Linked DNA regions of Homo sapiens: regions 1 and 3 are each linked to region 2. The links come from fine-mapping of genetic effects on gene expression. A gene starts in region 2. Each other region holds a variant in brackets. All regions are shown on one strand. Distances are from middle to middle. Region 1 overlaps CLEC9A (C-type lectin domain containing 9A). Region 2 holds the start of CLEC9A (C-type lectin domain containing 9A). Region 3 holds the start of CLEC7A (C-type lectin domain containing 7A).

Evidence for each region.
Region 1: its variant is fine-mapped to the expression of CLEC9A in whole blood (TOPMed, PIP 0.96).
Region 3: its variant is fine-mapped to the expression of CLEC9A in whole blood (TOPMed, PIP above 0.99).

Annotation. Positions count from the first base shown.
Region 1 is chr12:10,052,948-10,064,206 of GRCh38, forward strand. It overlaps CLEC9A (C-type lectin domain containing 9A), which reads left to right. Exons shown (of 9, transcript NM_207345.4): 5 at 1,324-1,404; 6 at 8,180-8,326; 7 at 10,108-10,259. Among named protein-coding and RNA genes, the nearest start is that of CLEC9A, 28 kb to the left of the region's middle. The variant C/A (reference allele first, on the strand shown) is at 5,495.
Region 2 is chr12:10,025,250-10,036,508 of GRCh38, forward strand. It overlaps CLEC9A (C-type lectin domain containing 9A), which reads left to right and starts at 5,433. Exons shown (of 9, transcript NM_207345.4): 1 at 5,433-5,723. It overlaps LOC102724020 (a long non-coding RNA gene), which reads right to left and starts at 5,374. Exons shown (of 4, transcript NR_169587.1): 1 at 5,294-5,374; 2 at 2,550-2,725.
Region 3 is chr12:10,124,770-10,136,028 of GRCh38, forward strand. CLEC7A (C-type lectin domain containing 7A) reads right to left here and starts at 5,430. Exons shown (of 6, transcript NM_197947.3): 1 at 5,211-5,430; 2 at 2,978-3,076; 3 at 1,802-1,939; 4 at 528-679. The coding sequence starts at 5,313. It overlaps LOC105369655 (a long non-coding RNA gene), which reads left to right. Exons shown (of 4, transcript XR_007063208.1): 2 at 6,312-6,471; 3 at 6,916-7,023; 4 at 8,517-8,845. RefSeq lists an enhancer at 8,969-9,789. The variant ACTGT/A (reference allele first, on the strand shown) is at 5,378.

The DNA.
Region 1 (11,259 bases), 28 kb after region 2:
AATAAAGAGAGCAATACACGTGATAAACGTGCGGAACTATTTTTTCCTCTGCCTCTCTAGAAAAGAAAAGCAATACCTAGATTTGGGAAATACGTGAAAAAAATACAACTTCAATTAATTGAACTCCTACTAAAACATTCTGCAAATTATCTGATAAATACTAAGAAATAAAAAAGAGAAAACATAGGTTGAAAAACTGGCAAGATCTCATTGGCCTAGAGTTGTTGGCTATAGTGATTAGTTCTGTCTGTATCGTTTAATATCTATGTTAATTCCTGTCTGCTGGTGTAACCAATCACACAGACTTAGGGGATTAACAGAACGTAAATTTATTATCTTAGGGCTCTAGATGTCACAAGCTGAAATGGATTTCAATGGGCTGAAACCAAGGTGTTGGCAGGGATCGAGTGGAAGACTCTATCCCTTGTCTTTTCTGGTTTCTAGAGCTGGATTTATTGCTTTCCTTGGCTCATGGACCCTTCTTCTGTCTTGAAAGCCAACAACATAACCTCTTTAAATGTTTCTCAGCCTCCATTATCATGCCATGCTCTGTCCCTCCAATATCCTACCTCTCATTTAAAAGGGATCCAGATAATTCAGGCTAATCTTCCCATCCCAAATCCTTAACTTAATGACTTCTTCAAAGTCCCTTTTCCACATAAGGTAACTCACAAGTCCCAGGAATTATGACACTGGCATGTTAGGCAGGGGCATTTCTCTGCCTATCACAATATTCAAAGATAAATTTTAACTATTTTTCTCTGATTAGTGTTTTGAATACAAAAAATCACATATTCCTTTTTTTTTTCCTCTCTGCAGGGTTGTAAAGTTACCTTGGAAAACTTGTTCGTCTTCCAAAAAATGTATATTTAAAAGTATATATTTAAAATGTGTATCTTTCTTTTCTTTAATCATGTTCAAGTAACACTGAAGAGATGGGGAGATGTGAGACAGCATTTTTTATCTCAAAACATAAAGCCAGCATTTGGCTTGGGGGAATCTCTAAAAGATTGTTGGAAAAGAATACATATAATTAGTTTGTTTAAGGTGTGACATCAAAGATAAGGATAACAGAAGTATACTATTAAATCTACTTAATTTGGCAGTATCCATATCACATATATTCCAAGTTATGAGTTGTATTTCAGTGCATTTGAGCAAAGGTTCTCTTTTTCCTTTTCTTTTACACATCCCAGGCCCCAACAACTCTCAGTAGAAATGCCAATGTTAATTCCTTCTTTTACTCAATCTCAATCTATCCTTGCCCCGTCTTTTTTATCTGCTTTCTCTAACTCGGTATCATTTTTCCTATTCTGTGGTTAGGAGCATGCTGTCTTGTGATGGTGATTTCATGTGTTTTCTGCATGGGATTATTAACAGCATCCATTTTCTTGGGCGTCAAGTGTAAGTACTAAAAGATATTTTCAAAATATGTATATCGTTATATATAAAACTTCATAATTTATAAATGGATGGAAAATCAATTCATATGTGAATGCACATAAATGATATAAAATAATGGCCTCAAATTTCAATCATTTGATAGAACTCTCTGAGCACTTGGATGCCACTGATAACTTTCAATGATCTATTGCATGTTTTTTAACTCAAATCATGTGCTATAGGTCTCTGGGAGAAACAATGAAAATAATAACATATTCTGATTCCATTTGTGAGTCATGTTAACATGCTAAAGCATGCAATTTGAAAGATTTCACATTCTGCTTTTCTGTTTCTAATATACATTTAAATTAAATTTGACTTTTAAAGATTATTTATATTAGGCAAGTTTCAATTTAAAATGTTTAATGCAAACCTGAGAGCTTCGTTCGACCACATTTAACCACATTGCTTTTTAGTCCAAATAGAAGACATACTTTTATGTTTGGCAAGTGAAATTTTTATAAAATATAATAATTACAGAGCTTCAGATTCCAGAAAAAGAACAATGAACCTCTAACATCACTCATGCTACCACTAAGAAAAATGTAGATGTTTCTTTCTTATATGCCTTTGCAAATCATATCTCTATCTAAAAGACATCAGCTGGAGAGGAAGAATTATGAACTCTGAGAATAAGGAAGGGAAAGGTTCAGATTCGCATTCACAAAGTATAGGAAGTTTGACCTTGCTTAGGTAATGTCATGAGCTTCATTTTCTGCTGGTTTTTAGAGGAACGTTTTAAGAATTGCCAAGAGCTTAATCAGTAATTGTTACTTCGTCTGTCTCCTCAAATAAAGTTTCACAGCTTAACAGAAATGTTAGAACTTCAAGACAGCTTTCTTTTTCTCTATCTACTCTCTTTGGGTCTTATTAAAAAATACATATTTTAGACAAATGTGAGTTCGCTTTTTAAGAAGCACACATATTAAATACCTGTGGAAACAATTTATATTTAAAAGACCAGTTCAGTCAATTAACATCTAATAATCCACCTTCTTCTGTAAAAATTGAGGACTTTAAATGACACATTGCCAAACTTCATTGTAACTCTACAATAGAAGAATCCATATTTAACTTGCATTGCAAATATCAAAAAATATTCTTTAAATGTTAATTCTATATAATGAATTTCAATGTTATTTTACAAATGATAATGATTTGGGGTAATAAGATTTTAAAACTTAACATATAAAATCATTTCCAATTACAAACAAAATTAACTGAAGATGCAACATCTTGAAGCACTGTTGTCAAGTGAATGGGATATATAATTTGGTTTTTATATAAACATAAATCTATAGTCTCCAATTGCCAAATATTTTGTCTACTATATAGACAAAAATCATATACTACATAATAAGGATGATTATAAAAGTACACTTTAGGCCAGGCGTGGTGGCTCATGCCTGTAATCCCAGCACTTTGGGAGGCCGAGGTGGGCGGATTGCCTGAGGTCAGGAGTTCAAGACCAGTCTGGCCAACATGGTGAAACATCATCTCTACTAAAAATGCAAAAAAATTAGCCGGGAGTGGTGGGGTGCGCCTGTAATCCTAGCTACTCCGGAGGCTGAGGAAGGGGAATTGCTTGAACCAGGGAGGTGGAGGTTGCAGTGAGCCAAGATTGTACCACTGCACTCCAGCCTGGGTGACAGAGTGAGACTCTGTCTCAAAAAAAAAAAAAAAAAAAAAAAAAAGATACACTCTACATTTTCCATGTTGTCAAAAGATTTGCTGTTCAGTGTATACCTAAGTGTCTTCTCCATCTAGTAAACGAAATCTTATATGAAACCTATAAATCATGTTCCTAAGATAGTGAATTATTTTAAACTGTATTAACTGTGACCCAGCAGTACTACTTTTGGAAATTGTACCTATAGATAAACCTGCAATTTAACAATAGGGGAAAAGCCTCAAATACCCACCACATTGATAAGAGACCATGTTAATAAATAATGGTACATCATCTATACAATAGAATACCTTGAAGCAAGAACAACAAAAGAAAGAAGAAACACTTCTGTATGTAAAGTGCAAAAAAGCAGCATTTAAAACCTGGCTGATGAGATCAATTGTACCCCAAACATCAGCATCATGTACCTGAGTAACAAACCTGCACATGTACCCCCTGAATCTAAATAAAAGCTGAAATTATTTTTTAAATGTATATGCTATGTTACAATTTGATTAAGAATGAACATTTTCTTGAATTTAAACAAACAATGGAAGGTTATATAAGAAATACTAAAAGTGAGGGCAAGAGAAGTGAGATAAATAGTGACGATGAGGAGAAAAATATATTTCAATGTTTACTTTTCGGATTTTTTTAAATGTTTTAATCCTATGAATGTAGTATATATTTAAAAAATGTTAACTCCCCAAACACAAATTGTATGAAGAAAATGTTACTTTAATGAGGATAAAAGAAACATAGCTAGAAAACCATGTGCCTAAGACTTCCAGTAATTTCTAGAAAATTCTTACAAATAAAAGTTTTTGCTTTTTAAATTTTGTCTTACGAGCTAAAAATATATACTTACAAAACTTAAATATCACTGTACAGGCGTAAAGTATATTTTCCTTTAGCTTTTGTTCTAGTGACTATTAATTTTTATTGTTGTTGTTTTTAAATTTATAATTTGCCTAGGTCTTCTTATACATTTTTAACACTTAAGGCTTTAAAAAAATAAAACCAGTTACCATAATAAAACTGTTGTGTTAAGCAATAAGCAGCTTCTTCATGTGAAACATTCTGTTCAATAACTAATTACTTGTCCCAGCTAGTTACAGATTATGTTATAGCCAGTAGGCTTTGAGTTACAAAAGTCATGTTTATTTTTTAATAAATATTCCATTTTGATTATGTTCCATTTTAAATTAAAATGTTACATCCAATTTTCTTTATGAAAACTTGCATTGCAAGACAAATATGAAAACATATTTAAATTATATACATATATATTTTTTAAATAGGACCATGTGTCTGACAAAAAGTAGTAAATGAAAACTATAACCTTTTATTTAAAAGTATCATAACATGAACATAATGAAAGTGCTAATTACAAATTGCTCATATATATAACTAAAGGCCAGTACCTGACAATAGAAGGACTGGTAAAATTAATTATGTCATATTTATATAAAAGAACACAATGCCATTATTTAAAGAATTCTTCTAGAACCATTGTTATTGTTTTGGGAATATGGTTATGCAATATTTTCTCACGAAAGAAGCAGATTTCTAAAAAGACATTTATATAAAAATATGGTTTTCTAAAGGTTGTATATAAAATACTTTTCTATATACATACATAGAAAAGAGTTTCAATAGATATAAACCAAATACTAATGGCCATTATTTGAGTGGTAGTTCTCAAAGTAAGTAGACTTAACTTTAATTTTCTTCCTACTATTTCACATTTTCTAATTTTTCTACCACATTATTTATGCCATTAATTTTTGTATTAAAAAATCTATAGTTCAAAATATTTTCTAACAAATCAGCTTTTTAATTTGTTTTTACTGTTCATTTTCTTAATTCATCAATTAGGTATAATGTATGATATCATATAACAAATAATTTTATTTGGGGGACGTTAAAAGTATTTTGTTTTTTTTCCCCAGGTAATTATATTGTTTTGTCTTTATTCCTCATTGCAGATTTATTACAACTTCAACCCCAATAAAGGTGCTATATTTTGCTTCCCATTTAGGGTAAAACTCTGAAGAGAAGTCTCATTTCCCTTTCTCCAGTTTTATTACAGTTTCATATAGTATACGCTGTTCAGACAGTAATAAACAACAGCTTCTATGATATAGCTAATCTAAAAAGGTATCTAAATATAAAATTTTAGAATTATATGTTGAATCTAAGAAGAAAATTATTATTTTTCAAAGTCTAAACATGCCAGATTATTAATAGGATAAAAATCAGAGCATCACTGTTCTACACTTGACTCTGGTTAGATCCATCATTTTGCTAGAAAGAGAGAAAAAGATCCAAGCAGCTGACAGCCTGGGTTTTTGTTAACTATCCACCGATGGACAGGGCATA[C/A]ACATCTGCTTTCTCTAGTCCATGGCTTTTGATTTCTGGCATTTTCTTCTCAGCAGCAATGTTGATAAGTAAAACAGATCAGAATATGTAGATATGTAAATGTTTTCTTTTTCTTTTCTTGCTCTGTTGCCCAGGCCGGAGTGCGGAGTGCAGAGTGCAGGGTTATGATCTCACCTCACTGCAACCTCTGCCTTCTGGGTTCAAGTGCCTCTCCTGTCTCAGCTTCCTGAGTAGCTGGGATTACATGCGCACACCACCACACCCAGCTAATTTTTGTATTCTTAGTAGAGACAAGGCTTTGCCATGTTGGCCATGGTGGTCTCGAACTCCTGACCTCAAGTGAGCCACCCCCCTCAGCCTCCCAAAGTGCTGGGAGTACAGGCGAGAGCCACCACGCCCAGCCTGTCTTGGTCAGATGATTTTTCTGTGTGATCGTGGTTACCTCCGTTTTGTGGTTAAAAATATGAAAATAATTTTACAGATTTGCCCATTTGTTCTCCTCTTTTGTTGTTCTATTTCTCTCTAAAAGAGGATTTTTAATCCTAAAGGTCTGGCTGACACGCATAGGTGTTTTTATTTGTTTTTTTTAATTCACTAATTAATTTTTCTTGATGCCATTCTCTCTATACAATATGTCTATTCAATAACCACAATCTAATAATGATTAACATATCATAAACTTATTTTAAACCAATTATATAACTGAGTAGAATCAATTTGCCTGATTTCAAAACCTGTATGAATTAAAGCTAGGTGTATTAGTCGACAAAAAGACAGATATAAAATACAATAAAGAATCCAGAAACAGACTCATACAAATATACCCAAATGATTTTGTCAGCAGTGCAAATCAATTGAAAGAAGGAGGATAGCCTTTTCAACAAATGGTGCTGGAGAAATTAGACATCCATAGGAAAGAAAAAAAGAAAAAGAAAATAAGCCTAAGTCTTCAACCTTACACAAAAATTAAAAGTTAACTCAAAATAGACCACAGTCTTAAAAGTAGAGCATAAAACTGTCAAACTTTCAGAAAACATAGGACAAAATCTTCAGAATCTAAAGGTAGGCAAATAATTCTTAGACTTACATTAAAAAATGGTTAATGAAAGGAAAAGCTGGTAAGTTGGATGGACCTCATCAAAATAAAACATACATACTCTGCAAAAGACACTAGGAAGAGGGTAAAAAGACTTGTTACAGGCCAGGTGTGGTGGCTCATGCCTATAATCCCAGCACTTTGGGATTCCTTGAGCCCAGGAGTTCAAGACCATCCTGAGCAAGAAGGTGAGACCCCATCTCTACAAAAATAAATAAGTAAATAAAAGCCAAGTTACAGACTGGGAATAAATAGTTGTAAATCAATATCTGACAAAGGATTAGAACCTAGAATGTACAAAGAACTCTCTAGTTAGTAAAAAACTAGACCATCCAACGAGAAAATGGCAAAAAGACATGAAAAGACGTTTCACCAGAGAGAATATACAGATGTCAAATAAGCACAAGAAAAGATGTTCAATGTCATTAGCCATTAAGGAAATGTAAATTAAAACTACAGTGAGATATTACTACATACATAATCAGCATGGCTAAAATAACAATAAGTGACAACATCAAATGCTTGTCAAGCTGCAGAGAAAGCGGATCACTCACTCATTCCTGGTGGAAATGTAATATGCTGTAGCCACTCTGGAAAATAGCGTAGCAGTTTCTTAAAAATCTAAACTTCACACTTCCTTAAAACACAACAATTGCACTCTTGAGCGTATACCTCATAGAAATGAAAATTTATGTTCACACAAAAACCTGTACATGAGTGCTTATAGTAGCTCTATTTGTAATGACTAAAACCTGAAAACTACCTGGATGTCCTTCAGTGGATGAACAGTTAAACTAGTAGTGGTAATTCATATCATGGAATTCTACTCAACAATACAAAATAGGTGAACTATTTATTTAAACAACAATCTGCATGAGTCTCCAGAGGATTATTCTGAGTGAACAAAGCAAATAGCAAAAGGTTACATACTGTAAGATAGCATTTATATGTCATTTATGTGATAAAATAGAAAAGGAACACAAATTAGTGATTGCCAGGAGTGAACAAGGGGTGAAGGCAAGAGGGAAGTGGGTGTACTTATAAAAGGGCAAGGACAGATCCTGATGGTAGTGGAGGAGCCGAGTATCTTGATTGTATCAATGTCAATATCCTGGTTGTGCTATTGAACTAAATTTTGCATGTCTATGTACTGATATGGAACTGAGTTCAAATATGCATGTTAATGATAAAACAAAAGGTGCAAAACCATGTAAATATATTGTTACCATTTGTGTTAAGGGGAGAGAGCGAGTTTTATATTCATTTGCCTTCATTTGTAAAGTTTCTTTTTGTTTTATCTTATGTGTAATATTCAAAAGCTCCCAAATAATAAAATATAAATTGGTAAATCTGGTTGTTTGGGGGTAGTAAATCAAGCAAATTAAAAATGGGTGCAAAGAGACATTTTGTTCCACGTCTTTTGTAGTGTTTGATTCTTGTACAATGTAAATTTTAAGCAAAAACCTAAAATAATACAAATTCAAGTCTCAAAAATAATAGTAATTTGTACTTGTCTTTAGTCTGTGTTGAAGGATTATTTTGCTATAAAATGTCAGGATTTTATTAGGAATGATTGCTATCATGTGAAGTGTTGCAGGTGTCCACCATTGCGATGCAGCAGCAAGAAAAACTCATCCAACAAGAGAGGGCACTGCTAAACTTTACAGAATGGAAGAGAAGCTGTGCCCTTCAGATGAAATATTGCCAAGCCTTCATGCAAAACTCATTAAGTTCAGGTAATGGATAAAAATCAGTTTCCACTGTATACATCTAAATATATACACCAATACCTCAAAAGAAACAGTGACACACATTTTGTTCTCTGCAAAACTGTTAGGATTTTATAATAAGAGTGACATAATTTTGGTCACTCTTCAGTTCAATCTTATTTATAACATCCAATACTACGTGGAAACACTAGGGATCCAAAAGAATGCAACTAAAGGAAATGTACAGTCAAATGCCAAAGAGGTGTGTGTGCAATTAGTAGGTCAGATTAAAAAAATACATGCACAAAAAAAAATCGTTTTATCCAGCCATTCAAATTTGTAAGGATGTTTTAGTTCTAGCTCCAAATTTCCCAATATATTTAGTTTAGATATTGTTTTAGATTCAAGTTTAGATAGCTTTGAGCAAAAAAATTCATTTTGAAAATGAGAGTATTTACCACAAAATTCTTTTACGATGCAGGACCTAGCTCTTTTTTAAAATTCTATGAAGTTACTGCAGTTTAATCTTTTATATGCTTTACAAGCATTTTAAACCTAATGCAGAGTCTATTTCTACCTGTCATATAGTTTGCCATGTATTCTATGCTTGGCATTTCATAATGCTTGTACATATAGTTTAGAGAATTAACTTTCCTAGACTGGATACCATTTACATAATTGCCAATGAGAGAAGTCAAACATCAACCATAGTTCCTTCTGATTAAAATTTAATCGAGTGTTTGAAGGATCACTGTGTGCCCAACCATGTTTCTCTATGCAGCAGGCCATTGCAAACTCGGGTGAGGCCCACCTCTGAGCCATCAACCTTGAATAGAATAACAATATCCATTTTGGAGACGTACAAGTCCAACATGTTCTTCAACGCCACCAATACCATTGTCTACACTATTTATACTATAGCAATGTTCAGGATATTGGTTGGCAGGGATTTCAAACAAAAGATATTGAAGAGCTTTAAACAACTTAACATCTGGCCCATGGAAGCTACTGATGAATTATTTCTTGGCCTAAATACAGGGACTGTCTAGAAACCAGAGTTGTGGAAGTTTCAGTGTCTTTCCTTCTATAAACCTGTGCCAGAAACACTTGGTCAAATTCTTGGTCTTTGGTTCCCCTTTTACACATTTGACCATCCTTCTTTTGTGACTATATTCCATCTTAAAACAGGTTCCATAAAACTGATTAAACATTAAGGCTTACTTCTTAGTTGTATCAGAGTCCTAAACTAAGCATATTGTTCATTTATGTTCTTCTCCAATTTTCCTCACCTGCATGTTTTCAAATCACTCCTTAAGGCAGACTACTTGTTCTCTCCATTATCTATAAAATATTTCCTTGTTTAGCTCTCAGAATTTAAACATAAATTCAGGGCTTATTATTCAATCCATCCAATGGTCCAGTACATTTCTGGCTAAATTGGGGCAGTAAGACTAACAGACATGAAACAATAAGCAAACAAGTGAAGACAATAAATGATGTGAATTCAAAGAAAGGAAAGATTGATAAAACTGGAATAATCAGATTATTATAGAAGAGAAAAAATTTAGTTAAATATATCCCAAAATTAATTTCATATTTAAGTTAAAGGCCCATTGCAGATAGAAATTATTACATGAATCTTACTATATTGAGCCTCAGAGAAGCTGAAATTGGTAAGTGCTACATCATGTGGACCATTACGTTATGAGATTCAGCCTCACTGAGGGTGAGGCAAGGGGCTTTTTGGAGGGATATATGTTGTTAATATTTTACAATAAGATACTAAAGTAAAATGTTTATATTCAAAGCCCATAACAGCAGTCCTTGTCCAAACAATTGGATTCAGAACAGAGAAAGTTGTTACTATGTCTCTGAAATTTGGAGCATTTGGCACACCAGTCAAGAGAATTGTTTAAAGGAAGGTTCCACGCTGCTACAAATAGAGAGCAAAGAAGAAATGGTAAACACTGTTTTGTGGTCTCATGTTATTCTGAAAATATCATTTTACTTATTAAAAGAAATCCCTCATTCTCATAAGACAAAATTCCTTAATATTCTATAACAGCAGTATAATTGTAAAAATAAAGGTTTAAAAGAAACAAAGTTGGAATCTGTATTTTTTGTTTTCTTTTTAATGGGAAAACATAAAAACAGGATGGTTTTCTGAAATCGAGAAGAATATGTTTGTTCTATGTCCTTGGTTAATTAAAAAGAGGAGGGAATAAGGAGAATACTATTTTGTAGCATGATAATCCACTTCAAGATATACATATATTATAGTTGCAGATATGTTTTAAATGTATTATTTTCAATGCTGTAGGCAAATATAGTAACCTATAATAATCTTGTAATTATCAAGAAAAAACAGAAGTATAAAAACTGAAGTGGTGCCATGAAATAAATAGGTCTTGAAAAATACAAGTATCTGCTAAATGAAATGTTTAATTAGCATAAAACCTAGTTTACCAATATCTTAACAAGTGAATAGGCTGGGCGGGGTGGCTCACACCTGTAATCCCAGCATTTTGGGAGGCCAAGGTGGGTGGATCACCTGAGTTCAAGGCCAGCCTGGCCAACACGGTGAAACCCTGTCTCTACTAAAAATACAAAAATTAGGCTGGGATGGTGGTGGGAGCCTGTAATTCCAGCTACGTGGGAGGCTGAGGCAGGAGAATTACTTGAACCCAGGAGGTAGAGGTTTGCAATGAGCCGAGATTCAGCCATTGCACTCCAGCTTGGGCAACAAAAGCAAAACTCCATCTCAAAAAAATAATAATAATAAAATAAAACAAGTGAACAATAAGATGTTGCCTTGAATTCATTCTACCCACAAATATATGAAATAGAATGCAAAATTGCACATTTTTGGCCCTATAAAAAATGTATACCTGCTATATTCAGTAATTAGATGAAGTTCATTTCAACAAAAATCATGAGAAAATAATTTGTTAAGGATATGC
Region 2 (11,259 bases):
TCCCACCCTCTTTATTGTTAATATTTTTGTGTGATAAAAACACAACGTAAGATTTACACTCTTAGAAAATTCTAAATATACAATATAGTATTGTTGTCTATAGGCACTACGCTGTACAGTAGATCTGTAGGACTTATTCATCTTGTGTAACTGAACTTTCTACCCTTTGGCTAATACCTCCTCATTTCCCTCTCCTGTAACCCCTGGCAACCACCATTCTACTATCTGCTTCTATGAGTTTGGTTATTTGAAGTTCCTCATATAAATGGTATCATGCAGCATTTGTCCTTCTGTATCTGGCTTGTTTCACTTAGCATAACATCCTCCGTATTTATTCATGTTGCTGCAATGGCAGGATTTCTTTCTTTTTTAAGGCTAAATAATATTCCATGGCATGTACCATATGACCTAGCAATCCCATGACTGGGTATATATCCAAAGAAATTGAAATTGCAATTTCAAAGAGATGCCTGAACTCCTATGTTTATTGCAGCACTGTACACAATAGCCAACACACGAAAGCAACCTCAATGTCCATTGACATGTGAATAGAATAAAAATAAAATGTGGCATATTCATTTTATTAATTTAAACTATTTGTTTCTAAGAACTTTATATTTTAGGTTGTTAGTTAGAAATGAACAAAATAAACGCTTTTATTGCTCTATGAAAGCTTGATTCCTCAGATCTAGGCCCCCATTTGTGGTATATTGCACATTTGAATTTATCATAGGAGCAAAAGAAAGTTGTATATGTTGCAGGCTATGTTTACATGACTATGTTACAGAATTAACATTTATCTTTATTTCTTTCCTATATTCCTGTTAGAAGACAATAGGATTATAATTCAGTTGACAGAAATGTAGCTTATGGCAGTCCTTAAGTCTGTGTCTTAACTTTGGGAATTTTGGAGGCTGGTGAAGTATAAGTATAGCTTTTCCTCTGGCTCTTTTGCTAGAAGAGAAAGCAGACTTTAAGAGAAAATTATTGCAGCACTATTTACAATAGCAAAACTTTGGAACCAACCCAAATGTCCACCAATGGTAGACTGGGTAAAGAAAATGTGGCACATATACACCATGGAATACTATGCAGCCATAAAAAAGAATAAGTTCATGTCCTTTGCAGGGACATGGACGAAGCTGGAAACTATCATTCTCAGCAAACTAACACAGGAACTGAAAAGCAAACACTGCATATTCTCACTCATAAGTGGGAGTTGAACAATGAGAATACATGGACACAGGGAGGGGAACATCACACACTGGGGCCTGTTGAGGGGATGAGGGGCAAGGGGAGGGAGAGCATTAGGACAAATACCTAATGCATGCGGGGCTTAAAACCTAGATGACAGGTTGATAGGTGCAGCAAACCACCATGGCACATGTATACCTATGTAACAAACCTGCAGGTTCTGCACATGTATCCCAGGACTTAAAGTAAATAAAAAATTTAAAAAGAGAAAATTATAGATTCGCATAGCTGATATGGTTTGGCTGTGTCCCCATCCAAATCTCATCTTGAATTATAGCTCCCAGAATCTCCACGTGTCATGGGAAGGACCTGGTGAGAGGTAATAGAATCATGGGGGCGAGTTTTTTCTGTGCTGTTCTCCTGATAGTGAATAAGTCTCATGAGTTCTGATGGTTTTACAAAGGAGAGTTCCCCTGCCACCATGCAAGACATGACTTTGCTTCTCCTTTGCCTTCCACCATGATTGTGAGGCCTCCCCAGCCATGTGGAACTGTGAGTCAATTAAACCTCTTTCCTTTATAAATTATCCAGTCTCGGGTATGTCTTTCTAAGCAGCATGAGAACAGACTAATACAGTAGACAAAAAAAAAACCTACATTTTTAATCATAAAAGGAATGGAAATTACCAAAAAATGTCTCCTAAGGGATATAAGGGCATGCTGGTTATAAGAATTCTAACAGGAATTCCAACTCATTTTTTAAAATGAGTAATTTTTAATTTTCTAGTAATGCATATTTCAGTACATGCATTTTCCCAGTATTTGAAATTGCATAGACCTCACTTAATAATAGACCAGAACTTATAAATTTAGTCTTAGGTAGTTTGTAAGAGATGTAAACTAGTATCATACCAGGTATTATAATCCTGGCAAAAAAATAAGCTTACTGTATTCCAATCACTTTCATTATAGATCATCTGTATGAGGTTACCTCTAGGTAATCAGAGGGCTAAATAGGAAATTCATTCCATGGAAGCAAATCATTGTGGTTAAGGGCACAGATCATGCAATAAAACTGCCTGCCTGCCTGCCTGCCTGCCTTCCCTCCCTCCCTCCCTCCCTTCCTCCTTCCTTCTTTCCTTCCGTTTCTTTCTGTCCCTCTCTCCCTGTCTCCTCTCTCTCCCTTTCTCTTTTTCCCCATCTCGCTGTCTCTCTCTGTCTCTCTTTCTCTCTCTCTCTCTCCCCCGCTCTCTCTCCTTCTCTCCCTCTCTCTCTCTCCTCTTTCCCTCTCTCTATCTCGGATCACTTGGTAAACACCAAGACAAAAACCTGCCAAAAGAAAAAGGAATAGCTCACCACAATTTTCTAAGAACTTGACACACATCAGGGAAGAGATTGTGCCATCTTATAACAGTCACAATTTCCTAAGACTCTGACACAGTCAGAGGATTATGCCATCTTCCCACACTCACAGTTGGATATGCCATGTGATAACCCCAGCCAGGAAGGAGACAACAGTGAGACACAAGGTTCTGTAGAAGACAAAAGCAGAACATAAGCCAAATCGTCCATGATGCTGCCTCCTGGAGTTGACTTGACCATGATGAAATGTAACCGAAATTGACAATATTCCATGACACCACCACGGCTTCTGTGCTGTGGATGGACATTGAAAAAAAATGCACAAGTTAGGAAGTTGTTTTCTTATCCTGCCTTTTCCTCTGCCTCCAAACTCTATTAAATCCAATATAAATAAAAATCTCATTAAGTGTTTACTTTTTAAAGCTTCTTCCCCGGATCAGTCGTACATTCTCTTCTTTCAGCATACTTTTCATTTACCTAGACTGAAAATTTGATTCCCTAATGAAACGTGCTCTCCTAAAACTTTCCAAAGTATTGCATTTGATTGTCAGAATTGTCAGAAGGCAGGTGAGTTGTTGTGTAAACCTTAACTTTATACAATAACAATGTATCCACCTTAGAACAATTATAAATTCAAGATACGATGTATTTTTTAAATTATTCTCTTTTTTGGTTTATATTTTATTTTCTTCTTCTTGTACACTATTATTTCCCTAGATTCTCTTTTCCAGAATGATGTGTTAGATTTGGAATTCAATAATGAAAGACAAAAATAAGTATTTAAATGAGGAAGTATATATTTCCTCTGTCTCTTTTTGTTATCCTATTCAATATGCAAAACCAGGCTGTGTGATCTAAATCAAGTTTCTTATCCTCTAAAGCCTAGGTTTCATATCTAAAAATTAGGAATGATATTACCAGACTTGTAAGGCTGTTGTTTGCACACAAAGGAAGAATTAAATGTGATCATTTATAGACTCGCCTGAGAGCATAGTATTTTATTATTAGGTACTCAATAATTTTTTTAACTTACCCTTACCTTCTCACCTCACCTCTGTAAATTTTAACAAAAGACAGGAGACCTGCATATTTACCAATTCCTTATTCTCTATATTGAGTAAGGTAGAAATTTTAGAGATCCTCTAAAAATTTTTATCCTTGCTGTCTTGCCATGTTATGGATTCCTGAATTATTTTATATTACTGGTCTTTTGCTCCATTGCCACCTTTCAGGACAGGGCTTACATCCATTATCTGAAAAGCCAGACGTATATATTAATTATCTTGATTTCTTTATATTAAATATGGACCATTTAATGCAATGTTTGAGTTAGTCTTACAAATATCTCATTTCCTCCCATGTTCACAATAGCCAAAATATGAAAACAAGCTAAATGTTCATTTCATTGATGAACAAGTGGATAAAGAAAACATAGTGTGTGTGTGTGTGTGTGTGTATATATATATATATATATATATATATATATATATATATATATATACAAGAAAAAACTTTCCACAAGAACCTCCATGTCCTCATTTAGAATTTAATTTAATTTTTTACCTCACACACCTCTTTTTTTTTTTTTTTACTTCCACTTGACACCTTTCTGGGGTAATAGGTATGTTGTACCTGAATTCCACTCTCCCTCAAAATATCTGTCTCAAATTTGTATATACATTAGTAGGTATCAATCAGGAAGGTCTCCCTCAACCCATTCAATAGGCCCTGCCACAAAATTTGAAAAGTTTAAAAAATTCAGAGCCCTGCTTATGTACATGGGTGTACATTTTTGCAGACAAAAATCCCCTGTGCCCTACCTACTCAGCAATCTTCCCCCTTCCTATCAATCTTCCTCTTCCCCTGAATCATTGGTCACAACTGATCTCTTTGTTTTCTTTGTCTTGGTTTTTCTCGAATGTCATATAGCTAGGATAATATGATAGCTTTTCAAACCGGCTTCTTTCACGTAGTAATATGCATTTAAGATTCCTCCATGTTTTTCATAGTTTGACAACATTTCATTTTGTTGTCGAATGATACTCCATTGCATGAATGTACCACAGTTTGTTTATCCACTCATCTTTTGAAAGACATCATAATTACTTCTAATGTCTGGCAATTATGAATAAAGCTCCTGTGAAAATGTGTGTGCCAGTTTTTGTGTGTGTTGGGAGCAAGCCCCCCAAAATCCGGCCATAAACTGGCCCCAAAACTGGCCATAAACAAAATCTCTGCAGCACTGTGACATGTTCATGATGGCCCTAACACCCATGCTGGAAGGTGGTGGGTTTACGGGAATGAGGGCAAGGAGCAGCTGGCCCGCCCAGGGTGGAAAACCACTTAAAGACATTCTTAAGCCACAAACAATAGCATGAGCAATTTATGCCTTAAGGGCATGTTCCCGCTGCAGTTAACTAGCCCAACCTATTTCTTTAATTCGGCCCATCCCTTTGTTTCCCATAAGGGATACTTTCAGTTAACCTAATATCTACAGAAACCATGCTAATGACTGGCTTGCTGCTAATAAATACGTGGGTAAATCTCTGTTCGGGGCTCTCGGCTGTGAAGGCTGTGAGACCCCTCATTTCCCACTTCACACCTCTATATTTCTGTGTGTGTCTTTAATTCCTCTAGCGCCTCTGGGTTAGGGTCTCCCAGACCGAGCTGGTCTCAGCAGTGTGTACAGGTTTTCCACTTTCTATGGTTCCTAGATTGTCTGTTAATACTATACTTACCTCTATAAGAAACTGTCAAGTTTACCGGGCCGCGAGGGTGCAGGCTGCGCAGATGGTGTGGTCCTGCGCCCCGAGGGCCGCAGCAGCTCATCCGGCAGCTCCCACCCCAACAACCTGGAAGGGGGCGGGACTTCCGTTTGTACCCGGCTGTGGCAATCTGTGGTGAAGTTGAAATGCTTTTCTGCTAGACTGGCAACATGTTTTGATTCTTCTCAAATAACTCGCAAGCTCTTGTGAAGCACAACGGCCTACCTTGTCCTGAAGAAAACATACTCTAAGGCCCACAGATGATTAAACCCAGCCATTTATGTGACAATAGCATTTTTATTTTTCTTATCAAGATCTGGGTATTTGATCCACACAATGGTAAAGATTCCCATGTTAGCCAAGATCTAAATGATTCAAACTGATGATACTCTCTGCAGAAGAGGTAAGAACCACTGGCAGTAGGGTGGAAGGTATGTCATTACAGATGATGCTGACAGAGAAGGTCATCTGAACCTACTTTATAAGAAAGGCATGATTAAAGGAGAAAGGGGAAAGGGCATTCTAGGTTAGGAAAGATTCTGAAGAAATGTAAAATAATATGAAGGTGTGAGCTGATATATTTAAGAAATAATGAATGATATGTGGGAGTATGTATCATCTGCAGAGATGGATGAGGGAAGATGCAAGTGGAGGGGAAGGCTGGAGCCGCTGGTGGAAAGACGTTAAGTGTATTTCAATGGCCTGATACTGCAGGCAGTAGACAGCCTCTGTAAATCAGGTAGCTTCCTTACTCTTGCTCCTACTGATCCCTCAGTCTAAAATGCCCTCTGCACTTTCTCTTTAGAGATAGAGAGGGAAAGGGAGTCAAACACGAAATCTCCAGGAGGCCATCCCTGGTTATTTCTTACTCCTCTGTTGATTTCCTTTAATCTGTGAAGTGTCTTCTAACTCGTGGCCTGAGGCTTTAGTGACTCTGCTGACTCATTGTCTGGTGCTACTGATTGTGCTAATGGTCTTCGATATTGTGTCCAGTGCCCCCCACCATTTTGGGAAGAAATTGGCTTTAGTTTTTACTCAGATTGAAATTTTATTTAGAAACGGGAGTAGCAAGACCAGGTGCAGTTAGTTACACCTGTAATCCCAGCATTTTGGAAGGCCAAGGTGGGAGGATTGCTTGAAGCCAGGAGGTTGAGAAATGGGAGTAGCAACCAATGTCGGTAGAAGAAACAGCATATAATAACAGGATGTGATAAATCTCAAGAAAAGTTACGCACAAATTACTATGGCAGCAGGAACGAGTGAGCCGCCCGATGCTGTCAGTGAAGGCTCTGAGGATTGGGAAGGATTGGCAGGGTTACAGGAGACAAACAAATGCTACAAATAACATTCCAAGTAGAAGGGGAAGTGAGGGTAGGGAAAGGAATGCAGACAAGGCTGAGCCTTGTTTGGAGAGCTAAGTTCAGTGTTGCAGATGCTCAATGTCATACCTTAGGAGGGAATTGCAAATTAAAACAACAATGAGAAACCACTGTATACTATTTGAATGACTAAAATCCAAAATACTCACAACATCCAATGCTGGCAAGGATGTGGAGCAACAGGAGCATTCATTCACCGCTGGTGAGAGGTAAAAAGGCATAGCCACTTTGGAAGGCAGTGTGGCAGTTTCTTACAGAGCTAAGTATAATATTAACATACAATCTAGCAACCATAGACGCAGGACAAGAACTCGGGCAAAGACGCCACAGCCACACAGGTTTCTGAACAGAAAATCAACATCCCAAAGATCCCGTAACATAATCTATGCTCAATCTCCATCTGTATATTAAAATCCATCCACCTACCTCCTTAGGGATTTCTTTTTTTTTTTTTTTTTTTGAGACGGAGTCTCGCTTTGTCACCCAGGCTGGACTGCAGTGGCGCAATCTCGGCTCACTGCAATCTCCGCCTCCCGGGTTCACGCCATTCTTCCGCCTCAGCCTCTCGAGTAGCTGGGACTAAAGGCACCCGCCACCAAGCCTGGCTAATTTTTTTTTATTTTTAGTAGAGATGGGGTTTCACCGTGTTAGCCAGGATGGTCTCGATCTCCTAACCTCGTGATCCGCCCGCTTCGGCCTCCCAACGAGCTGGGATTACAGGTGTGAGCCACCGCGCCCGGCCAATAGGGATTTCAAGCTTGTAATTTTCTTTCTTTGGTTCGCTCTGGCACTATCAATTTCTTTTCATCTCCACTTGTTCACTCACCTTCACCTCCCAACATGGTATAATATCTCCTATGTTAAAAACAAGCAAAAGCCATCTTTTGTTTACCATGCCCCCATACACACGATTCTAATTTTCTTATATTTCTTCTTAACATTTCTCTAATTTTCTTGACAACAAAAATGTTCAAAAATCTCTCTGTGCTTACTGTTTCATCCTACTTTTCCTTTATGTTAATTAGGCTTTTTCCTTCACTATTTCTATGAAAACACTCCAGTCAAAGTCACCATTAACCTCCACATGAACACATCTAATGGCTAGTTCTCAGAATTCATCTCACGCACCAGATAAGCATTCAAAAAAAAAAAAGATTATTCCCTTTTCATAACATACATTCTTCTCTAAAATACAGTGTTCCCTAGGACACCGTTCTCTTCAATTTCCTTTTGCTTCATTCACAACCCAATCCTCCCTCAGATTTGGATTCCTCCTTAAATTAATTTAAAATGTTGTTGTGTCCCAGAATTCAGTTCTTGGTCCTCTTGTTTTTTTTTTAATTTATCCTGGGATGAACTAAATTGGATAGTACCCATAGAATGGCCAGAATGGGAATTAATCTCTTGTAACCTCATGACTTAATAGCCATACATTGATAATGTCCAAAATTATATTTCCATACCATTGCTTGATCTCCAGAACCACATATCTGACTGGATTCTTGGCATATTGACTTTGATATATTTTAGGATTTTTTAACTTAACACATCAAAAAATGAGTGACTCTTCCCAATGAGTTTCTCCATCTCGATAAATGAATATTCCATACCTACGGTTCCTCTGCCAAAAACTTGGAATCACCTTTGACTTTTCTTGCTGCTCTCACATGAATTAAACATGTCAGAAAATATTGTTCACCTTGGAAAATATGGAAGCACAGTTATTAATTATGGAAGTATTGTTGATTGAGAATACCTTAAAAGAAATGCTGAGTTAACATGATAGGAGGATTCATTCTCACTCTGTTCTTTAACAGTCTTTCCATTCTCACATCTTATGCCTGTTTCAGAGGACACTTTTAAAGTGGGGCCTAAATTGGATAGTACCCAGAGAATGGCCAGAATGACAATTAATTCAGAATTATTTACAAAAAAAGAAATAGGGAAAAATGAAGATGAAAGCCAGAGTTATCAAAGGCATAAGGGAAACAAAAATAAACTAAAAGCAGAAGAAAAATAAATGGCCACAAGGAGGAGACAGAGGATGGATATAGGATGGAATTTATTTTTAAATGTATTAATATAGTCACCCAATTAGGTGAGTATGCCTGACCAGGATAATAAAATGTCTGAATTAAAATGAAGCACTGTGAAGACAGGCTGATTGATTCAAATCCTGGATCAACACTTACTTGCCCTGTGGCTTTTGGCAAGTTACTGAGCCTCTGTGCTTTATTTTTCTTAGCAGTAAATTTGTCATAAGTTTAATGCCTACCACAAATGTAACTGATAAAAGCATATAGAAAGAGCAATAAATGGCAGCTGTCATAGTGGAAGTAAGTTTGGATTATTCTGGATTATCTTAAAAAAAGGAAGAAAGCTGGGACATTGCCCAAGCACTGACAGTGAAGCTTAAACAAACCAATTCTCATGAGCCCAACCAGGGTCTGCCTCCAGCCTGTCTGGAAGAACTCAATTATATCACTTTTCTTCATTTGTAGCACTTTTCATGATGTAAAATTATGTTGATCTTTGCTTTCGATGTAAAATTATATTGGTCTTTGCTTTCTATGTTTCTTTACTATCTGTGCTCCCCACCCTTTACTATAATACAAGCTCATTGCTTGTATGATTCATTAACGATTAGTCCCCAGAAAATAGAAACATGCCTGGGACTTCCACAGTGATCAATAAACATATGAAATGGGAAAAGTTCTCTTGTCCCCCTAGCAGAGTGTGCAATGGAGGTATGGCTCGCTTCTTCAGTGCCCCGCTACTCAGACCTCTAGGGGAGGGGCAGGCTGTGGGGCTCCGGCCCCACGGTAGTGTCTAGGAGTAAATGTTTGTATCTGAAGCCCCAGTGGGCGTGTGTTACAGGGTGCTCTTTTAGTTTAGCCGTCCATAGGTGGCTTGTGTTAGTCAGCTCAATTAGACCCCTACCTTATAGCAAGGACAGAGGCTTTCTGCATCCCAGGGTTCTTACCTTGGTGTACTGGAAGAATCAGATCACACGTGGGCTTGGAGAATGAGTGCAAGGTTTTAGTGAAAGGAAGTAGCTCTCAGCGGATGGTGGAGCCAAAAGGGTGATGGTTTTCCCCTGGAGTCTGGCCACTCAGTGGCCCAGGCTCTCCTCTGATTGTCCCGGCCAAACTCTGCCTTGTTTCACCAGTTGGTGGCCTGCCGATATGCTCTTGACGTCCAGCCACTTATGTCTTGTTCCATTGATGACTACTCTCAATGTCCAGCCACTTATGTGTCTGCCTGCTAGGGTCTTGGGGGTTTTATAGGCACAGGATGGGGACATGCGGGCCAGGATGGTCTTGGGAAATGCAACATCTGGGCATGAAGGCAGGAGTGCCTGTCCTCATCCAGGTCGGTGGGCAAAGGCCCGGGGGTGGAGCCCTCGCCAGGGATCCGCCTTTCTCTATCCAGCACTTCTCTGCCCCACTTCTGTATCACATATGTTCAAATAAATGATTAATTAATTGCCCTTGCCATGAAATTTTGTAGTAATTTTAAAGGAAAGTGCAATGGCAAATATACTTAACATACTATGAATCCTCAATTCAAATATACTTGATCAGACCACTTTCCCTCAATCAATCGCACTATTTCCCATAATCGCACTGAGTAGATTAGATGATAGTACATTTTTGTTGTTGTTATTGTTTTGTTTTTGAGACAGGGTCTGGCTCTGTCACCCAGGCTGGACTGCAGTGGCAAGATCCACGATCTCAGCTCATTGCAACCTCTGCCTCTTGGGCTCAGGTGATCCTGCCACCTCAGCCTCCCACGCAATGGAACTACAGGCGTGCGCCACCACACCCAGCTAATTTTTTAAACCATGGGTTTCACCATGTTGCACAAGGTGATCTCAAGCTCCCGGGCTCAAGCAATCCTCCCACCTTAGCCTCCAAAAGTATTGGGATTACAGGAGTTAGCCACCATGCCCGGTGCCTGGTACTGCTTTTTACAAGAAGTATACTTATTCAAACTCCCAGTTTTTATTAAGATGTTTGCCCTGCCTGATAAACATTGCCTTCTTCTTTTTCTTCTTAGGCAATATTTACCTTTCCTTCAAATACCAATGCAAATCTTAATTAATCCAACTGATTATCATTCATTCTTATTTAATTTTTACTTCCATGTTTGGTATGCAAATGCCTGATAAACTTTGTGATAGGACTGCAGTCTGACACATTTTTCCCTTCATTTTCACTACTGTTTGTCACAAATGTTCTGCCATAATTTTGGTCTGATAGTTATTAGTTGTTTGGTGTATTAACTTTTAATAAAGCTCATTCCACTTTGAAATCCACATGTTTAAGCTTTCTGTAAATGAAGGAGAAAATATTAACTATACTTTTCTATGACAGGAAATCTTACCCCTTTACAAATTAAATAGCATTTAGTATTTGTGTGAAAGCCTGGTAAGTCAAAGGCAAACCAACAATTGTAATGAAGAGGGCTGAGAGAGAGGACTGAATATCACTAATAGAAGCACCTGAGGCTTTAGCTTAAAGGTGGTAAGAAGTCTGTGAAAAGCTATGACCAATTACA
Region 3 (11,259 bases), 100 kb after region 2:
ATGCATACATGGAGTATGTTTGAAAGGATTTGTTTTAAGGCGAAACACAGTTTTTTAAATTAGTTAAAAATAAAAGCATATACTATGCACTTTATGTGCTTAAGGCATGCTATGATTATAATTATAGAGATATTAAAAATGAATTTTGGCCAAGTATGGTGGCTTACACCTGTAATCCCAACACTGGGAGATCGAGGTAGGCAGATCGCTTGTGCCCAGGATTTTGAGACCAGCCCAGATGATATGGAGAAACCTCGTCTCTATGAAAAATACAAAAAAACATTAGACGAGTGTGGTGGTGCACCCTGTAGTCCTACCTACTCAGGAAGCTGAGGTGGGAGGATCACTTGAGCCTGGGATGTCGCGGCTTCACTGCACTCTAGCTTGGGCAACAGAGTGAGACTCTGCCTCAAAAAAAAAAAAAAAAAAAGACTTCATTTTAGGAAAAATTGTCATTACCTGGAATCTCCCTCTATCTTCCTTCAGGATACACACCACAGATAATCATAACAGAAGTCTACACTTACCAATTCATTTGAGCTGTCTATCTTTAGGAGATTAGAGCCCAGTTGCCAGCATTGTCTTTTACTTCCATCCCAGGAATTTAGTGACATGCTGAATAGATAACAGCTCTTCTCATATATAATCCAATTAGGAGGACAAGGGCTGGAAAGAACCCCTGGAAATAAAAGATTAGTACCATGAGGTTCATAGCATACCAATTCACTCTTTTAGTGTGAACACCATTCATCTTAAGGACACTTATGAAATAACCAATTAGTTGCCATTTTTATATTTCATTGTCAATTCGAACTACAGGGATATGATTTTACAGATGAGAATACATTAAAATCTTCCTATTCATTTAAAATTTAAAAACAAACTAGCTATAAATAGTATTTTAGGCAGCCAACCATCCTTTTTTTCTTCACTTGTCTTCTATTCCTTCTAATTCAGCTCAAAACTACCTTTCTCCTTAATAACTCCTTAAAATAAGTCCACTCACAATCAGTCATTGAGGTACACAGCAATTTCATATTGCTACTTATTTTATGATGTAAGATCTACTTCATAATGTGACTTTCCAAGTGAGAAAAGTATAGGCCAATTATTCATATTATACACTATCTCTGTTATATATTATTAGCTACTTAATAAAAATAGTGAGAAGGTATGGGTCCAGAGATGAAAAATTGAACTGAAAACATTAAGTCATAGTCAATTATGATGCAATTAGAAGTAAAAGTCAAGTGTGTATAGAATTGTAATTAAGTAAATGAAATTGTATGATTAAACAAATTTGATGAGTTTTCAGGGACATGTGTATTAGGTCTACCTCTTTTGTATATTTTTAATATAGCTTCCTTATTCTTGGCAACATTTTCCCTTCTTTCCTTTCTCCCTGTCATTCTTCCTTTCTAATGTCATATTTCCTATTCTAACTGTATCGCATTTAAAATGTCAATTCTGTAAGGGGAGAGAACACTTTTCTTTTATTTGTATCAAATTATATGATCTCCTGTAGATCTAAGCACATAGCCAGTGATAAATCAGTTACTGATTTTAAAAATTAATAAAGTCCAATTTAGAACTGTCCAGCCAACTGCATAGGGTACTTATAATTTCACCTTATTGTATATATGACAGGGATACATTACACTAAGGTAATACTAATATGTGTATTTGCCTTAAATTTACAATCATTGAATCTAAGTGTTTTTCTTTACACCCCTGCCCCAGGCTTCAGCACCAAGAATTAACCCTCTTGAGTCAAGATTCCGTCCTTTAACTATGCCCTTGCCTGTGGTTTTGACAGCTTTGGTAGGAGTCACACTGTCTTCTAAAGATGATTGTGTGGGTTGACTGTGGTTCTCTTTATTTCTTGATAGAAAGTAGCCATTCTCCAATGTGTTGCTTCCTGAATTGGATCTCCAAATAGCTTCACATACCAACAATAATAATAGTGACAGAAAAAATGTCATTCTGCTGTGTTTGAAAATTAAAATCCCAAAACCCAAATGTTATTGGAATAAAAGAATACATTATTGATTAATGATAAATAGATGATATATTGCTGTGGAGAGATAAAGACGATTGATAGAATAGATGAAAAGAAATACATAACTTTTATAAAGGAGGTATAGTAAAAAAAAAAAAAGAAAAGAAAAAAGAAGGTGGAGAAGAAGAAATAGAATGAGGGAGGCAGCAAGAGGCAAATGTCATAGAGTCAATTGGACCCATGACAGATTTGAAATAGCAACATCTTTCACCTTTCTTCTGTTATTTAAAAATGAGAGATCCTTGAGAAACTGCCCAGTACCTATAACATAGAACGCACTCAATAAACATTTGACTAATTAAGGAATGTCATGAAGACTCTCTGAAGGTGACTGACAACAGATTGCATGTGATATAAAATGTAAAAAAAATATTAATCCATTACAAAATATCGACTTAAGACCAAGTGCCTCAGGAAATTTCTGGTGTATTCAAAGGTGTTTATATTAAAGATCGGAAATAATTTCCTTAAATAATGTGAATCATAAAAATAGCTTAATGTCCATTTAGTGAATTTATTTCATTAGGAAGACAGCACCATATTGTACTTTCTTCTTCAGCTCCGCTTGTTTTCTTCATTAATTTATCCTTTGAATTCCACAGCTTTGAAACCAGCTATGTAAGGGAGGTAGGAGAGCAATGTAGTTAAGAGTATGAGTTTTTTAGACAGATCACCCAAATTTCTAATCATGGTCCCACCACTAACTAGCTTATAACCCTGGAAAGGTAAAATAACCTCTCAGTCTCTCACACCCTTTATAAGTGAAATGGGCATTAACAGCACCAACCCAATACAGATAAAACCAGATTATATACAAATTAAAGTAGATTATGCATGTCAAGCCCTTAAAAGAGTGCCTGGCACATAATAATTGCTTACTAAATTGTCTGTTGTTAATCTCCTCCACCAAATACTCACCCATGGTACCCAGGACCACAGCTATCACCAGTATTACCAAGCATAGGATTCCCAAAATTACAGCAATGAGGCGCCAAGGAGGAGATGCAGCACACGATCCTGAGGAGCCAGAGGGGGCAGAAATGGAATAAAGAAAGAGAATGACGGATGGTGGGGCAGTTTAATTCTACAGTTCATCAAAAATCTGGCCTTGCACGGTGGCTCACACCTGTAATCCCAGAAGGGAGACTGAGGTAGGAGGATTGCTTGAGGCCAGAAGCTCAAGACCAGCCTGGGCAACACAGGGAGACCCTGTCCCTACCAAAAAAAAAAAAGAAAAACAAAGAAAGAAAAAAAATTTAATTAGCTGGGCATTGTGGTGAGCTCCCGTAGTCCCAGCTACTCTGGAGGCTGTGGCAGGAGGATCACTTGAGCCTAGGAATTCCAGAGCAGCATAGGCAAAAAAGTGATACCCTGTTAAAACACACACACACACACACACACACACACACACACACACACCACCAACAACAACAACAAAAAATACTGGCAAATTTTTAAGTGAATTATTAATCACTGCCTAGGTTACCTGGTCACCTAGGATTTGCTGTGCTTCTCCACCAGTAAGGATACCTTCTTCTTCAATTGCTGGAATTGTAATTTCGGCACATTGGCTTGATAACTGTATGCTCCTAATTTCAGTTCCACATTGACATCTACAGGTCTTGACATTAGTAGGATCCCTGAAATCCCACTGATTCTTAGAGGAAATAGCTTAATGTTGGGGAGATAGCACTGATTACTAAGGGTAATTTTCCCTTTTCATATGTTTGTTGCATGACCCTGGGCAAATTACTCCCTTTGTTGTTTTTTATTCCTCTTTGTGAAACTGGGGTAATAATATCTCAAAGGATTATTGCGGGAATTAAACGAGCTAACACATATAAAAGCACCTTGTTTAGAGACTGCTAGCACATGATAGGTGTGTTGTTGCAGGATACCGTTTGCCTACACATATGCATAAACATGCGCATGTCTCCCTACCTCTTGCCTCATCCACTTTTTCCACGCTTCCTCAATAGGTTGCCCAAGAAAAGAATTACATCAGTGCTGAGAGGAAAATATTTGTGCAGTGTGAATAACCAGAAAGCAGAAGAAAGCAAACTCTGGTGTCAAAACCGACAAATGATCTCTCTCTCTCAAAGATAATAGGGAACTAATTTTGTATGAACATTGCCATAACCAGAATGTATTTCTGCTTTCCACTGTGACTAAGCTGTCAGGACATTTCATAGAATTGTCACATAGGAGAATCGTAGAGTAGGCTAAATCACCCATTCTATGAATACAGAGATCCTCCAATGCCCTTCTTTCTATTTCATTTCATTTACACTTTGTTTAAGACTCATGTCCTGCTGGTGGGATGTTTTTATCTACCATATGTTCATATATTTTCCATCACTGGTATACCAATAATTGTTTTTTGTTTAAAAACAATTTAAATTAATCTCTTACCACAAAAAAAAAATGTTGTTCATATATATACTTCTTTAAGTTTCCTGGCCTCCATTCGATAATCTAGCCTTTCTATCAAACAAGCAACAAGTCACTCATACAGAAATCCTTTATCTTTGTGTATTATCCCACTTATTACCAATTCCTCACTGATGAAATGTCTATATCTATAGAAAAGAGAAATTCTATTTTCTGCCATCAGACATAATTAATTTAAACACTAATAATTGGTCACTGAATAATTTTCATGAAAAAAGGTTTAGGGTGCATTCAATTTATCTTCAGTGACATCTGAAGCCTTTAAAAGTATATCCATAAAAATATACACATCACGAGGCTCTCAAATTTTCTCCCCTTATATCTTTTTGTTTTGTTTTTATTTTTATTTTTTTTCAGAGATGGAGTCTTGCTCTGCCACCCAGGCTGGAGTGCATTGGCATGATCTTGGCTCACTGCAACCTCCACCTCCCAGGTTCAAGTGATTCTCCTGCCTCAGCCTCCCAAGTACCTGGAACTACAGGCGTGCACCACCATGCCCGGCTAATTTTTGTATTTTTAGTAGAGACAGAGTTTCACCACGTTAGCCAAGCTGGCCTCGAACTCCTGACCTCAGTCAATCCACCCGCCTCGGCCTCCCAAAGTGCTGGGATTACAGGTGTGAGCCACCATGCCTAGCCTCCCCTTATATCTTTTCAAACGGGAGAGCTAAAGGCACACATTAGAAAAAACATATATATACCTTTCTCTGAAACAACAGCTATCCTGGTATTGCTTTGAGAGTCGAAGTGTAATTGAGTATATCCATCTTCATCCAAATTTTCTAAATCAGGATGATATTCCATTGTTCTTGAGAGCCCCTGAATAGATATAGCATTTGGGAGCTCTTTTCTTTCTGCTCCTGAGATG[ACTGT/A]CTGTGGACAAAAGAGAATCTCTGAGTCAAATCATGTGGGCTAGGTACTTACCGGAGTTTAACAAATTAAGCTTAAGTAGTTCAACCAGATATTCAAGAGCAGGAAATGAAACTATGCTGTGGTAATTTTCCATTTGTACCTTTAGATCCTGTTTCTGAGACTGCTGACTCAGGAAAACTAAAAGGCAGCATAGCAGATGAGTCTTTGTTTCAGACCAAATGTAAGAAAAATGCATACATTAATGTCTTATGCTGCCTTCATTACTCTCACAACTAAGTCTGACATTAATTAATTTAACCGATGCAAACTATTTCAGTTTTGGTGCTCCAAGTTTACCATAACTTTGTTCATGTATTTATTCATGTATTTTTTAAATTACATAAACAGGTACTGGATGCCCACCTTTTCAATTGGTAGGAGCTTACAATACAAGGAAAAATGATACCTATGAAGAAACTCATTGCTTAATAAAGGAAATATATAGATAGGTAAATGAGGGATGGCATGAGGAGATGCATTGTTGTAACAACAGACAGAGAAAACAAATCTCTTTGGGAATTATCAGATATTAACACAAAATAACATTTATTGAACAATTACTATGAGCTAAGTACCACATGTTGTACATATTTTCTTGTTCAATCTCACTTTTCCAAGTCTATATAGTAGGCATTATTATTTCTATTTTCAAATGAAAAAATGAGACAGAAAATTTAGCCTCTTTCTCAGGTTTAAGAAGCTAATTTTAAAAATTTAGAGCAAGGAATCAAATCAAAGCTGACTCTTGCTGCAAAACTCGTGGTCTTTTCTGTTACGCTACACTGCCTCTTTCATCATTCCATACACTTATATTGCAAGGAACAGCTTATGGAAGGTGTTGGGACTGAAATATTATGTTAGATGTTTGATTTTTTTTCCCTCTCTTCCAGTTTCCATAGTAATGATCAAATCAAAGAAATATAGAAAACACCTAACATTGCTGGAAACTGAAGAGGTGTTCAACTCATTTATCCGACCTTGAAGCCAGTAGAGTGCAGGAGACATCTGAGTGTTGTCAAGGATCAACAAATCTGGATACTAGTTAATGTGGTGAGGACAGGTTTTATTCAGTAATACTATTGCAACAGGAACCAGTGCAGCATTAACTGAACTCAACTTCCCCAAAAGTAAAGCTGATGACATTTTAAAGTGGAGTTTGCTAAGGAAAAGATACTGAGTGGTGTTAAGGAAAGTTAATGTGACTAGACTCTCTGGATTTGTTAATTGGCCCTTATCCAGAGGACAGAGAAACTTTGCCTATCTATATGACAGAAGGACATGGTGATAGTTGAAGTGAAGCACCCAGCTAAGTTGGTCCTTATGCTGCATCTGAAAGAAAGAGCAAGATTTATCTCCCTGAATGTTTGCATTTCAAAGAAACAGCTCCCAAGTCCTTGAAGAAACAGTTCTGTGTGGTAGATTTGCTTCTCAAAGGGCAGAGAAAGAATTTAACTGTAAGATTTATTTTTCTTTTCTTTCTTTTTTTTTTTTTAGACGAAATTTCGCTCTTGTTGCCCAGGCTGGTGTGCAAATGGCACGATCTCGGCTCACCACAACCTCCGCCTCCCGGGTTCAAGCGATTCTCCTGCCTCAGCCTCCTGAGTAAGCTGGGATTACAGGCATGTGCCACCACGCCAGGCTAATTTTGTATTTTTAGTAGAGACAGCATTTCTCCATGTTGGTCAGGCTGGTCTTGAACCCCTGACCTCTGGTGATCCGCCTGCCTCGGCCTCCCAAAGTGCTGGGATTACAGGCGTGAGCCACTGCACCTGGCCTAACTGTAAGATTTCTAAAGTAACTGCTCTAAAAGGAATTCAGGAGCCTATCTGTTACCAAGTTTTTTGTTGTTGTTGTTGTTTTGAGACAGAGTCTCGCTCTGTTGCCCACGCTGGAGTGCAGTGGCGCGATTTCGGCTCACTGCAAGCTCTGCCTCCTGGGTTCACGCCATTCTCCTGCCTCAGCCTCCCAAGTAGCTGGGACTACAGGCGCCCGCCACCATGCCTGGCTAATTTTTTGTATTTTTAGTAGAGACAGGGTTTCATCGTGTTAACCAGAATGGTCTCGATCTCCTGACCTCGTGATCCGCCCGCCTCGGCCTCCCAAGGTGCTGGGATTACACGCATGAGCCACCACACCTGGCCTGTTAACAAGTTTTAACTGGAACAAAAAGTAAATTCTCCTAGCAGCATTGGGCTTCCTCAGGCTGGCCTTTTAAGTAGTGCTGAATCATCCTATGGACCTTGCCTTAGGCTACTAGAAGGCGTGCTAGAGTTTGCCAAGTCTCTAGTGCAGAGATTTGGGAGGAGTTGTTATATGATGAGGGCTCTGCAGTTCTGACAGTCTAACACCTATCAAAATGGAAGAGAGCTCAAGAGAGTACATAAATGAGCTTCCCGCCTTACTTAAGCTGCCACAAAAGTTTTACTAAGTTTTTGTAGACATGTTGCAAAGTGGTAATGTGGATCTTAATCTCAACATTCATCAGTGTTTCAGTCCTATAATGCAGTGCTTGGAAAGCAGCGTATGAGGTTCAGGACATGCAACCCCAAAATATGGATTCTTGGCATTTGAGAAAACAGCAGAATCAGGAAATTCACTCTCACACCTTTCCCCGTCTTTCTGCCCTGAAGCAGATCATAAGACCCTTATTTTAGAAGTATTGTTTCCTAGAGGAAAGAAACTTCCTTATCTTTGAAGATACAGAGATGCCAAGAAGAATCTGAACAAATTAGTCTTGCTAAGCTCCCTCCAGTTTATTAGCATTAGATCATACCCTCCTTGTCCAACGTAGGGGAGAAAAAGTAGTATCTTTTCCTTGCCCATCACCAGGTTCGTGACTGAGACCCCTATAACAAAAGACAGATTAACAAAACAAAAGCATGTAAATGTTATACGACAAGAGAGCCTTCTGAAATGAAGACGCAGGGAAAACTGAGTATTTCTACGGACAGTTATGCAGAAGTATGACTGGAGAACAAAAGGGTATAATCTAATGGTAATAAGCTGAGTAGAACTTAACAAGGCCTGTTTGTTCAGGTAACTTCTATTAAATAAATTTGGATGCTATTCTCTTGTTGATCTATGTTTTATTGTAGATGCCGTGAACCTAGCAATGAGTGAGGAAAAGGAATCTTTCACCCCTACAAAGGGATACCATGGAATTTCTCAAACAGTGAATACATTGGCTCCAGGAAAAAGGGTCGACCTCTTAAATAGAAATAGAGAACTAGAGAACAATAATGAGGGGAGTACCTTGCAGTCAGTAATAAGAAGCTGTCTTTACTATCAAATCAGACCTCCAGTGGGAGAGTTTTTCCCTATAGTGACTTTGACTGTCACCCTGTGTTTAATCACAATCCTATGAAAACAGTTAACTCTCTAAGTGGTCAAAGAAATTTTTCAATAAACATAAACTTTAGTCTAATTCTCATTATTCTCCTTTTTTGTCTCTTTGTCTAAAATAAAGCAATTAAACATTAATTATGCAAATCATTGACAAACTAGAAAAACAATACCCTTCGTATTTCAAGACAGTGGGAGAGATAGGCTGGGTATTCAGAGAAAAATACCCCTCATTAAATGTTAATGCAAGAAACAGGTGGAAGGCCGAGCATGGTGGCTCAGGCCTGTAATTCCTACACTTTGGGAGGCTGAGGCAGGTGGATCACCTGAGGTCAGCAGTTTGAGATCAGTCTGGCAAACATGATGGAACCCCATCTCTACTAAAAATATAAAAAATTAGCTGGGTGGGGTGGCAGGTGCCTTTAATCCCAGCTATTTAGGAGGCTGAGACAGGAGAATCACTTGAACCCAGGAGGTGGAAGTTGTAGTGAGCCAAGATCGTGCCACTGCACCCCAACCTGGGCAACAACAGTGAAACTCCATCTAAAAAAAAAAAAAAAAAAAAAGGAAAGAAACAGGTGGAAACAAACCAACCTAACAAAAGAAAAGACAAAAAACAAACCAGTTATCTAACTTACATTTTCAGTGAAGTTTGTTGAAAACTTTCATCTATAAAACAAGTGGGTCATCCAAGAAAAATGAGCAATCTGGCCGGGTGCAATGGCTCATGCCTGTAATCCCAGCACTTTGGGAGGCAGAGACAGGCAGATCACCTGAGGTCAGGAGTTCGAGACCAGCCTGACAAACATGGAGAAACCTCGTCTCTACTAAAAATACAAAATTAGCCAGGCGTGGAGGCGCATGCCTGTAATCTCAGCCACTTGGGAGGCTGAGGCAGGAGAATTGCTTGAACCCAGGAGGCAGAGGCTTCAGTGAGCCAAGAGTAAGCCAAGATCGTGCCACTGCACTCCAGCCTGGGCAACAAGAGCAAAAACTCTGTCAAAAAAAAAAAAAAAGAAAAGAAAGAAAGAGAAAAAAGAAAAATGAGCAATCTGAGAAGAGTTCTTAGAAGTGGAAAACACATTTTATAAACTAAAATTGTAATTAATGAAACCCAGAGGTAGATTGAATATTACATCAATAAAATAGCTGAAAGAACCGAATTCATAATAGCTGAGTCTCAGGAATGGAAAACAAAACATTGTATGTTCTCACTTATAAGTGAGAGCTAAGCTATGAAAATACAAAGACATAGGAATGATACAATGGATTTTGGGGACTTGGAGGGAAGGGCGGGAGGTGGGTGAGAGATAAAAGATTACACATTGGGTACAGTGTACACTGCTCAGGTGATGGGTGCAACAAAAATATAAGAAATCACCACTAAAAAACTTATCCATGTAACCAAACACCACCTGCTCCCCAAAACCTGTTAAAATAAAAAATAAAAGAATAGCTGAGTCAGTCTGCTCACTCACTGCTATATACATTAAGTAGTAGTGTTTACTCTCAGAATTAAACCTCAAAAAATAGCATTCTTTTCAAACAAATATCTATTTTGTATATGTCTAATGTGACTTTCTGGAAAATTCATACAAATAAATGAAGAGAAATAAGTAAACATGTGAATATATAGAAATAAATGGATACATGAATTAAATAGAAAAGATTATGGCTGGGCACGGTGGCTCATGCCTGTAATCTCAGAACTTTGGGAGGTCAAGGCAGGTGGTTGGCTTGAGTCCAGGAGTTCGAGACTAGCCTGGCAACATGGCAAAACTCCATCTCTACAAAAAAAAAAATACAAAAAATTAGCCAGCTATGGTGGTACATGCCTGTGGTTCAAAGTACTTGGGAGGCTGAGGTGAGAGGGTTTCTTTGAGCCCCGGAGGCAGAGGTTGCAGTGAGCCAAGCTGGCGCCACTGCACTCCAGCCTGGGTAACAGAGCAAGACTCTGTCTCAAAAAAATAATAAAAATAACAAAGAAAACAAGATTATTAAAACCAAACTAAGCATTAAACTTAAGAACCACTGCAGAAAAACATGTTCAGTCCTCAGAAGATAGCAACATTTCAAAGTACCTTCCCAATTAAAAAAAAATCAAATTTCTCTTCCAATTTGAATGCTAAATTGGGCCTCTTTCCTCTCTTCCTCTTCTCTGACTCTCTGCCTCCTTCCTTTCCTTGTTTTCTCTATTCATCCATTAACAATTAAATATCTACTGAATATTTACTATATTCACAAACCTGAGGCTCAATCCCAATCCTAATTGATTTCTCATTATATTTGAGGAAGAAAGACATGTAAAAAAAATTACTTCGGTATCCCTTGGATTGACTGAAGCACCAAATTTACTTAGCTTTACTCACAACACTTACAAATGCTTCATTTTAGATGGTGTAGTCATTCATAGCTCTCCCACCTTCCCTGCCAGGGATCCCCAGCTCCCAATTGCCAAGCCCATGCTCCTCCTTTCTTCTTTGTGACTTTGCTTTT